Regions from separate parts of the Homo sapiens genome. Here region 1 is linked to region 2. The links come from fine-mapping of genetic effects on gene expression. Tissue or cell type: whole blood. Region 2 holds a variant in brackets; the other region holds the start of a gene. All regions are shown on one strand. Distances are from middle to middle.

Evidence for each region. PIP is the estimated chance that this variant, and not a neighbour inherited with it, causes the effect.
Region 1: it holds the start of NEK11, and the variant in region 2 is fine-mapped to the expression of NEK11 in whole blood (INTERVAL, PIP 0.91).

Annotation. Positions count from the first base shown.
Region 1 is chr3:131,023,897-131,029,005 of GRCh38, forward strand. It overlaps NEK11 (NIMA related kinase 11), which reads left to right and starts at 2,981. Exons shown (of 18, transcript NM_024800.5): 1 at 2,981-3,110; 2 at 4,034-4,106. ASTE1 (asteroid structure-specific endonuclease 1) reads right to left here and starts at 2,929. Exons shown (of 6, transcript NM_014065.4): 1 at 2,611-2,929; 2 at 1,578-1,698; 3 at 109-1,435. The coding sequence starts at 1,410. RefSeq lists enhancers at 2,581-2,820, 2,961-3,020, 3,101-3,290.
Region 2 is chr3:131,127,969-131,133,178 of GRCh38, forward strand. It overlaps NEK11 (NIMA related kinase 11), which reads left to right. Exons shown (of 18, transcript NM_024800.5): 6 at 4,777-4,841. Among named protein-coding and RNA genes, the nearest start is that of NEK11, 100 kb to the left of the region's middle. The variant A/T (reference allele first, on the strand shown) is at 2,483.

The DNA.
Region 1 (5,109 bases), 100 kb before region 2:
GCACTCAACCTCATCAGTTTGTTATAGTAAGTGAACTAATATAGAAGACAGCACTTTGTATCCTGTAAAGTACTTTACAAAAATTTCATTAGTATTACAAATACTTACCTCAGTCAATCTGCTTAAGTCAGAATGATCCTTGGCCAGTTCTACTGCATCAATGATTGAGGTTCTGATATTTTTATTAATCCTTTCCACTTCACTGAAAGCTAGAGGCTGAGGAGGCAATGCATTCCAGGATGTCTTGTCCAGATGTGGTGAGGCATTTAAAAGAAGCCCATAGATGATTTGCCTGATGGGCTGAGATATTCTGTGGGCATTTGGTTGCTGCATGTTTTCCACCTGTGTGGGAAGAATGGTCCGTCTTAGGACCAAAGCATCACTGATGAAAGGAGATAGCTGGCCTTTAGCTAAAGCCACTAATACCCATTCTGGTAAACCAAGATTCAAGGCATCTGGACAGACATAAGTACCACACTGGAAGAAGTCCTGTAGCTTCACCTGGGACTGTTGGTATTCTTCCATGGAACAGCAGAGAAGTTCCTTAACATTTTCTCGATCCTTTTTTGGGAGGTATTTCAGAACATTATCTAGTGCTTCGGTAGGGTTGGCAAAATGAGACAACCAATTCAGAAGTCCCAGGATTCGGTGGTGTCTCCTCCCTTTAGAACTGGTAGCTCCAAGAGGAAGACGCGCTTTACTTAAGAATGTCTCCATGATGGGTAGATTAACATGGTCATTTCCACATAGCACCGCAAAGAGAGGTAGTAGAGCTTTATTCATATTGCTGAAGTGATGGCAGAATGCATCAAGGGAAAAGCATTTGGCAGGGATATAGTTTTGTGTGCCCTTAATAGTGTTCATATTTCTCCACTGAAAGCTATTCAATGGGCAAAACCCAGTTTTCAGGTCAAAAATGCAAAAGTCACTATCTGATGATAACACAGGGCAATTCCAATGGTTAGCAAGTGTCATAATGTCCCGATCTGCTTCTGAAAAGCACTGGACAAAACACACCCGCAGCTTGATCAAAACCTGTATGAATACTTCCCGGATGAGTAAGGGACATACGTACCCACTCCCACCAACAGAAAGGGAATGGGCCATCTGGATCTTCTCTCTAGCTCTATCCTTTAAAGTTGTAAGCTTTTTATCTGAAATGTCACATCCTCCATCTAATACAACATATGGGCATATATTACAAGCAAACAGTGATTCAAAGAATTTTTGTACAACATCTGCAAAAGAATCATAGTCCCCTCCATACCGGAGATCCAAGTTTGAACTGAAGCAAAGACGGTGGAAAAGAGCATAACCATCAATGACAATTTTTGTGTCCCGCAACTTCAAATCAGTGAAGAACTCATTACTATGATCTTCCACAAAACTCATTAGTCCTCGGATACCCATGATGACAGTCTAAAGAATTAATCGCCTGTTTAAAACAACAGAAAACATTTTCAATTGATGCTAGTTATGGGGCACCAAGTCATTGCTTCCAGCACCATTAAATCAATAGCAAATGTTATGAAGTGCTCTTTAGATAGAACATAGATATCAACATCATAAATTCTTACCTAGATCCTCAAGCAATGTTAGCTGTGCTTTTTCATTCTCCTTTGCTTTCTGATACAAGGCACAAATTCAATGGTTTCATGGGTTGTAATCTTTGGATGGTGACAGAGGCTGCTGCTAATTCTAAAGAAAAATCAGTTGAAGTCCATTACTGACACACCAGTATAGAAGTTCTGTGAACTTTGATTCTTAAGTGGTAATAGTCAACATCTTACAGCACAGAGTATTTGTTTTGTGGGGTCAAAGTAAAAAGTCCTAAGCTAAAAAAAAGATATCATATTCATCTCATAATCACAAAGCATTTGGGCTTCAGTAAAGTAAGGTGTGTAGGACCTATGATAAGGATCAAGTTTTTCTTTTGTATTGACAATCAGTCACGGAACTTCTTTCAGGCTTTGGATTTGTGGGCCCTTCTTAATTGGCATAGTTTTTGGTATAAGGAAAACTGCTTCATGCCTCTAGGAACCCCTCTATCCAGTTACACCCCTAACCACGAGCTCTTTTCATCATCTTATTTTGCATATCTGGCCCAGCTACGCTTCCTCACCTGGCTAACTTAACTCGCAGGATCAGAATTGATGGTTTTTCTTTTGACACCTCGGGCTTCAATATGGCACAGCACGGTACTGTTACTATTACTTAAAATCGTGACATTTTGTCAGTCATGGATTTTTTTTGCTATAATTTTGATTTTTAGAGATTGCATTAAAACTTACCTTGATTACTGAATTTTATTGGCATCCATTTACATTTTACACTTATCTCACCCTAGTTCCAGCCCTGTCAGTATCTCAGAACCTTATCCTGTATAGTACTTATTTCTTTGCAAGATAGTTTTGTAAAGCGTCCATAAGCAGAGACTGTGTCAAGGCGTCCTACGCAAATTACAGGACCTTGCACAGACAGTTGCATAGAGCTGCATAGGGGAAAGGCGGGCAAAAGGTCTGACCTAAGTCTTCAAACACAGGCCTTCATACACCGTGCCACCTCGGCCCTCACAACCCGCCGCCCGGACCTGCAGCAGAGCCCACCTACTCTGTCCTCCCAGAGGAGTAGCTCCTCCATCAGAAGCCCGCTAGAGCCCAGCGAGGACTGGCTCCTGCACGTGAGAGTCCAATCTCAAGAGCGGGAATCGGAAGTCTCCCGGTGTGACGTCTCTGGGAAGTACAGTTCCGTGATGCCGGTGGCGCCAGACTGAGCCAAGGAGCAGGTGTTCTCGGGCCCAGAGGCGCTAAGTAGCTAAAGAGGGCTGGGACGTACGTTCCGAAATGGCTGCTGTCAGGCTAGGAAAGCTTGGCCCGCCGGTCCTCCTCTGCTTTCTCCGCCTACTTGGGTCGGCGAACACTTCCGCCTTGGTGCCGCCTCGCCCCGACTTCCCAGTATGCCCCGCGCCGTCTCCCTGGCCACGGTTCCAAACAGCCGTGGCCCGCGGTGTCTGGCGCTCGGTGGGTGTGGTTGCCCCTAGTTTGAGGCCTGCCCGATTACCCGCAAGACTTGGGCAGCCCCGGGCGCCGCTCCGACCACGACAGGGAAAGGTAAAGCGAACTGTCCTCCTTGGGGCTAGCCAGGCTCCCCTGCGAGGGGGAAGGTAATGGTTTCAAGCTGCCCGGGCTGGGTTCCGAATCTCTAGGACGCCATGGCTGCGATCTCCTCGCTTTCCTGGACATCTTACCTCCGGATGTACTCCAGTCTCAGTGCCCCTCAATAAACGTTAACCTGCTTTGCCAAAATGTAAATGTTTAAAAAGGTGAAGAAGCAAGGAATTGTTCGTTTTACCTTAAGGTTAAGATTTACTTTAAAGGTAGATTTGTGCTGTAGCAGAAACTGGTGACAAATTGCCTTCCTCTTATTACCTGGGAAGATAACTACTGGTTTTCAACTTGTGATAAATACTCCTTCCGTTGTCTTTTGCCCCCAGCCAGATCTGTTTCACCGAGAACGGGTAGTTTGCACAAGGTAGTAACTTTCTCCAAGTTCCCATCTAGCTTTCTTAACTAACCTTTTTTCTCTCCTTTGGGCGGCAGTTGATCTGCTGGACACTTACTTGCCTTAACAAGGTTTGTTAAACACCTAGTATATGCCAGGAGGTATGCCAGGGATTGGGGATGCAGAAATAAAGAAGATGTGTTCGCAGTGCCCAAGTTCACTCAAACCTCGAGGGGGAGCGTGTTGTCAAGTGAACAGATAGTTCTAGAATCTAGACAATGCGACACATTCTTGGGTAGGTTTATGGTTGCGCAGAGGAGACTAATGGAATGGATGACCTAAAAGTGGACTGGGATGGGGGTGGCAGGGCTGAGTCTGTGAGGGTGGGCGGGAGGGAACCTAGTCCCAGAGTCTTCTGCAGCCTGGACCAGACTACTTAAGCACTGCTGGGTTTAGACTGTCCTTTAAAATAAGAGCCGCTAGAAGTGAACTTCTCATTCTGTCCGTCCCTAATTCTGTCCTTCTCTAAAAGGAACCTTAATCTCATCTTTAAAATAAGGAGAATTACTGAGTGACCTGAAGGACCCTTTTCAGCTGGAAAGTCTGTAAGTCCATATATTTATTTGAACAGCTTAGTATGGCCAGACGGCATCACTTTTATGACAGTGAAGGGGAAGTAAAAACAAAAGGTATATTTAGAGGCCTGCTCTGTAGTTGTTTTTCCAGCAGATTTTACTAACGTGTCTTTGGAAGGGAAAAGAAAAAGCTGGTAACTAATCTCACTGGTATTAGGTACAACTTAACTGATTCATACATTTTAAGAAGGAAAATGTTGTAAATGGGCATTTACTTATGTTCTGTTTTGAGGATTTTTGTGGTTAATTGCCCTAGTAGTTTTTGTGGTTGACGGACACCACCACGTAAAGCCCATTGACCATCCTTAAAAACTAGGTTTTTGTCTCATAGCTTTGGAATTGTTGAATATGAAAACCTAACTTCAAGGTGTAGGCAGTTTTCAATTTAAAATGTTATTTCTATATAGATTTAAAACAAAAGCACACTTTTCTTGATAACTAACAAAACATTTAACATTCTGATGAAATAAAAGTGATTTTACTTTGTACCTACTCATATGAAACAGTCCTGCCTTTCTTTTTTTTGTTTTTGTTTTTGTTTTTGTTTTTGTTGAGATGGAGTCTTACTCTGTCGCCCAGGCTGGAGTGCAGTGGCGAGATCTCACTGCAAGCTCCGCCTCCTGGGTTCACGCTATTCTCCTGCCTCAGCCTCCCGAGTAGCTGGGACTGCAGGCGCCCGCTACAATGCCCGGCTAATTTTTTTGTATTAGACGGGGTTTCACCGTGTTAGCCAGGATGGTCTCGATCTCCTGACCTCGTGATCCGCCCGCCTTGGCCTCCCAAAGTGCTGGTACTACAGGCGTGAGCCACTGCGCCCGGCCTAAACAGTCCTGCCTTTCATAACTGCCACGTCTCATAGCTCCCTGAGGAATTACAGATTTATCTGTAGCATTTATATTCCACTGACATTAAATGGGATTTTAGGTTTGAATTGAATTTGTAACTCTTCCTGTTTTTAATCCAGAGAGATTAT
Region 2 (5,210 bases):
ATCTACTCAAAGCTCTGATTAAAAATTTAAAATAAACTTTATTTTTTAAAGCAGTTTTAGGTTCACAGCAAAATTGAGTGGAAGGTACAGAGATTTCCCTTATACCCCCTGCTCCCACACATGCATTGCCTCCCCTGTTATCAGCATTGCTACCAGTCATACATTTGTTATAACAGATGAACCTACATTGACAGATCATTATCATCAAAGTCTATAGTTTACATTAGGGTTCATTCTTAGTGCTATACATTCTTTGAGTTTGGGCACATGTATGACATGTACCCATCATTTTAGTATCATAAAGTTGTTGCATGGCCCTAAAAATTCTCTGTGCTCTCCTTACTCATTCTTCCCTCCCTCTTAAACCCTGGCAACCACTTATCTTTTTGTTGTCTCCATAGTTTAACATTTTCCAGATTGTCATATAGCTGGAATCATATATAGATTTCTCAGGCTGACTTCTTTCACTTAGTAGTATGCATTTAAGTTTCTTCCATGTCTTTTCATGCCTTAATAGCTCATATCTTCTTAGCACTAAATAATATTCTATTGTGTGAATGTACCATGGTTTATTTAACCATTCCGCTACTGAAGGACACTTTTGTTGCTTTCAAGTTTTGGCAATTATGAATAAAGCTGCTATAAACACCATTGTGCAGGTTTTTGTGTGGACATAGTTTTTAATTCATTTGAATAAATACCAAGGAACATGATTGCTGGATTATGTGATAAGCATTTGTATCATTTTGTAAGAAACTGCCAAACTGTCTTCCAAAGTGGCTGAACCATTTTGTATTCCCACTAGCAGCGAATGAGAGTTTCTGTTACTCCACATCCTTGTGAGCATTTGGTGTTGTCAGTGTCTCGATTTGGGCCGTTCTAATAGGTGTGTAGTGGTACTTCATTGTTGTTTTAATTTTCATTTCTCTGATGACATATGATGTAAAACATCTTTTCAGGTTTATTTGCCTTTTGTATATCATCTTTGGTTAGGTGTCTGTTAAGGTCTTTGGCCCATTTTAAAACCAGATTATTTTCTTATTGTTGAGTTTTAATAGTTCTTTGTATATTTTGGATAACAGTCTTTTTTTTTTTTTTTTTTTGAGACTGAGTCTCGCTCTGTCACGCAGGCGTGTCAGAGTCGCAATCTTGGCTCACTGCAAGCTCCACCTCCCAGGTTCATGCCATTCTCCCGCCTCAGCCTCCCAAGTAGCTGGGACTACAGGTGCCCACCACCAGGCCTGGCTAATTTTATTTTTGTATTTTTAGTAGAGATGGGGTTTCACCACGTTAGCCAGGATGGTCTCGATCTCCTGACCTTGTGATCTGCCTGCCTCAGCCTCCCAAAGTGCTGGGATTACAGGCTTGAGCCACTGCACCCGGCCAACAGTCTATCAGATACGTCTTTTGCAAATATTTTCTCCCAGTCTGTGGCTTATCTTTTTATTCCTTGACAGTGTTTTCTTACAGAGCAGAAATTTTTTATTTTAATAAAGTCTAGCTTCTCAATTCTTTCATGGATTGTGACTTTGGTGTTATATTTAAAAAGTTATCACCAAACTTAAAATCATCTAGATTTTATCACATATTATTTTCTAGCAGTTTTATAGTTTTATATTTTTTAGGCCTATGATTTATTTTTGAGTTAATTTTTGCAAAGGCTGTAAGGTCTGTGTCTAGATTCATCTATTGTATATGAATGCCCAGTTGTTCCAGCACCATTTGTTGAAACGACTGTGTTCCATTGCATTGCCTTTGCTTCTTTGTCAAAGATCAGTTGACTGTATTCACGCAGTTTTATTTCTGGGCTCTCTATTCTGTTTTATTGATTTTTTTTCTCTCCAATACTGTACTGTCTTAATTACTGTACTTTATAGAAAGTCTTGACATCAGGTAGTATCAGTCCTCCAACATTGTTGTTCTCCTTCAAAAGACCCAATATTATGGATCTTTTGCCTTTCCATACAAATTTTAGAATCTGTTTATCAATGTCTACAAAATAACTTCCTGGGATTTTGATTGGGGTTACATTGCATCTATTGATCAATTTGGAAAGAATCCATATCTTGACAATATTGAGTCTACCTATCCATGAACATGGATTATTTTTCCATTTATTTAGTTCTTCTTTGATTTTTTTTCATTACAGTTGTGTAGCTTTCCTCATATAGATCTTGTACATATTTTATTAGATTTATACCTAAGTGTTTCATTTCAGGGGTACTAATGTAAATATAGTTTGATATAAATGTCAAATTCTACTTGTTCATTGCTGGTATATAGGAAAGCAATTGATTTTTGTGTATCAACCTTGTATTCTGCAACATTGCAGAATTAATTACTTGTTAATTCCAGGAGGTTTTTTTAATTGATTCTTTTGGATTTTCTACTTAGCTGATCATGTCATCTGTAAACAGAGAGTTTGTTTTTTCCTTTCCCATCTCTATTCCTTTTACACTTCCTTTTCTTGTTTTACTTAATT[A/T]GGTAGGACTTTCAGTATAATGTTGAAAATAAATGATTAGAGGGGACATTTTTCCCTTGTTCCTGATATCAGCAGAAAAACGTCAGGGTTCTCATTGTAAAGTGTGATGTTAGCTGTAGGTTTGTTATAAATATTCCTGTTTCTAGTTTATCAGAGTTATTGTCATGAATGGGTATTGGATTTTGTCAATTGCTTTTTCTGCATCTATTGATTTTTTCATGTGATTTTTCTTCTTTATTCTGTTGATGTGATGGATACATTAATTGACTTTCAAGTGTTAAAGCAGCCTTGCATACCTAGTATAAATCCCACTTGGTTGTGGTGTATAATTCTCCTGACACAATGTTGGATATATATATGTATATTTTTTGGACAACATCTCGCTCTGTCACCCAGGCTGGAGTGCAGTGGGGTGATCTCAGCTCACTGCTACCTCTGTCTCCCGGGTTCAAGCGATTCTCCTGCCACAGCCTCACAAGTAGCTGGGATTACAGGCCCCTGCCACCATGCCCAGCTAACTTTTGTATTTTTAGTAGAGATGGAGTTTCACCGTGTTGGCCAGGCTGGTGTCGAACTCCTGACCCCAGGTGATCCACCCACCTCGGCTTCCCAAAGTGCTTGGACCACAGGAATGAGCTGCCACGCCTGGCCTACAATGTTGGATTTGATTTGCTAATATTTCAGTGAGGATTTTTTCATCTACATTCATCAGAGATACTGGTTTTTAGTTTTCTTTTCTTGTAATGTCTTTGTTTGGTTTTAATGTTAGGATGATGCTGACATCTTAAAATGAGTTAGGGAGTATTTCCTCTGCTTTTATTTTCTGAAAGAGATTATAGATATTTGGTGCAATTTCTTCCTTAAATATTTGGTAGAATTCGCCAGTGAACCCATCTGGGCCCAGTGTTTTTTATTTGGAAACTTACTAATTATTGATTGAATGTATTTACTGAAGATGGGCCTATTTGATTGTCTACTTCTTGTATGATTTTTGGCAGCTTGTGTCTTTGAAGGAATTGGTTCTTTTAATCTAGGTTATCAAATTTGTGGTTATAGATTGTTAATAGTATTGCTTTTTTATTCTTTTAATGTCCACGGAATCTGTAGTGACGCCCTCTCTTTCATTTTTGATTTTAATAGTTTTTGTCTTCTATCTTTTTATTTTACTTAGGCTGGCTAGAGGCTAGTTGATTTTATTGATCTTTTCAAAGAACCAGTTTTATTTTTGTTGATATTCTCTATTGGTTTCTTGTTTTCAATTTTATTATTTCTGCTGTAATATTTCTCCTTACTTTTGGTTTAATTTGCTTTTCTTTTCTAGTTTTCTATGGTGGAAGCTTAGATAACTGATTTTAGATCTTTCTTTTTTTCTAATATATATATTCAGTGCTGTAAATTTCCCTCTAAGCACTGCTTTTGCTATATCACACAAATTTTGATAAAGTGTGTTTTCATTTTCATTTAGTTCAAAATATTTTAAAATTTCTCTTGAGATTTCTTCTTCATTGTTTAGAAGTGTGTGGTTTTATATTCACATATTTTGGGATTTTCCAGTTATCTTTCTGTTATTAATTTCTAGTTTGATTCCATTTTGATGTGAGAGCAGAAATGGTATGATTTCTCTTCTTTCAAATTTGTTAATGTTTTATGGCCTAGAATGACTTTCAGTTTCTTTTTGAATAATTCGCAGGGATTTTTTTTCATTTTTATGTGAGCTCAACTGTGCATATATGAAGATATTTGTATACTTTATTCGGCATTTTAGTTTTTTTATGCAAAGATTTTCAAGTTTTCTAGTTCTTTATAATTCCATAAAATAAAGGTCTTAACTGACATAATTTACATTACTGACTTATAGTCAGATTTAATAAATGTTACCTATTCTTAAATATCATCAACAACGTTATTATTTTCACAAGTATATAAAACTTGGACATTTGGGTAATAATAGATTACAAACTGGTCTATCAATTGAGGATATGGTTACTGGATATAGTACTATGTAGATTATGCTACAAAAACATAATAAAATATAGCCTATTGAAATAGTTGAAAGCATATCACCGTTCTCCAAACTACATGTTCCCCAACCTTTAAAATCTTTATTTTAAAACTTTTGTTTCCTCAGGGAAACTGGAAAGTATTGTGGCTTTGTAGCTTTTAAACATTGAAAGATATATCTATGGGAGTATATATTTATGTGTAAATCATGTGCAACAACATATATTATTTACATGGGGATTTAAAAATGTTATATTCTGCATGAAGTTGTATATCTTTTTTGCCTTTTGTAGGAGGATACTTCATCGAGACTTAAAGTCAAAGAATGTATTTCTGAAAAATAATCTCCTTAAAATTGGTAAGATTTTAAAAAGTATGAATTCCAAAAACGCAGAACAGTATATTCTAGATATTATCATATCAAATTGAAGTAAATGGTACGTGGAAGTATTAGAGTAATCATTGGTTTGTTTAAATTTCTCAAATTTTTAAGTACATGTGCTGCTGAAATGAACACTAAATTTCTCAGGTTTCTAGATGGGCCCAACAAAACCTAATTGTTTTGTTTCTGAGTATCTGATATAAATTGAGGTGTACAAATTTACCACATATTTGATAGATTTTTCAAATATACTTTGAGTTCCCTGTTTCATGCCAGGCACTTTACAAGTTATTAGAATCATTTTACTGGTTTGATTAGTTACTACAGGTTTCTCATTTATATTAT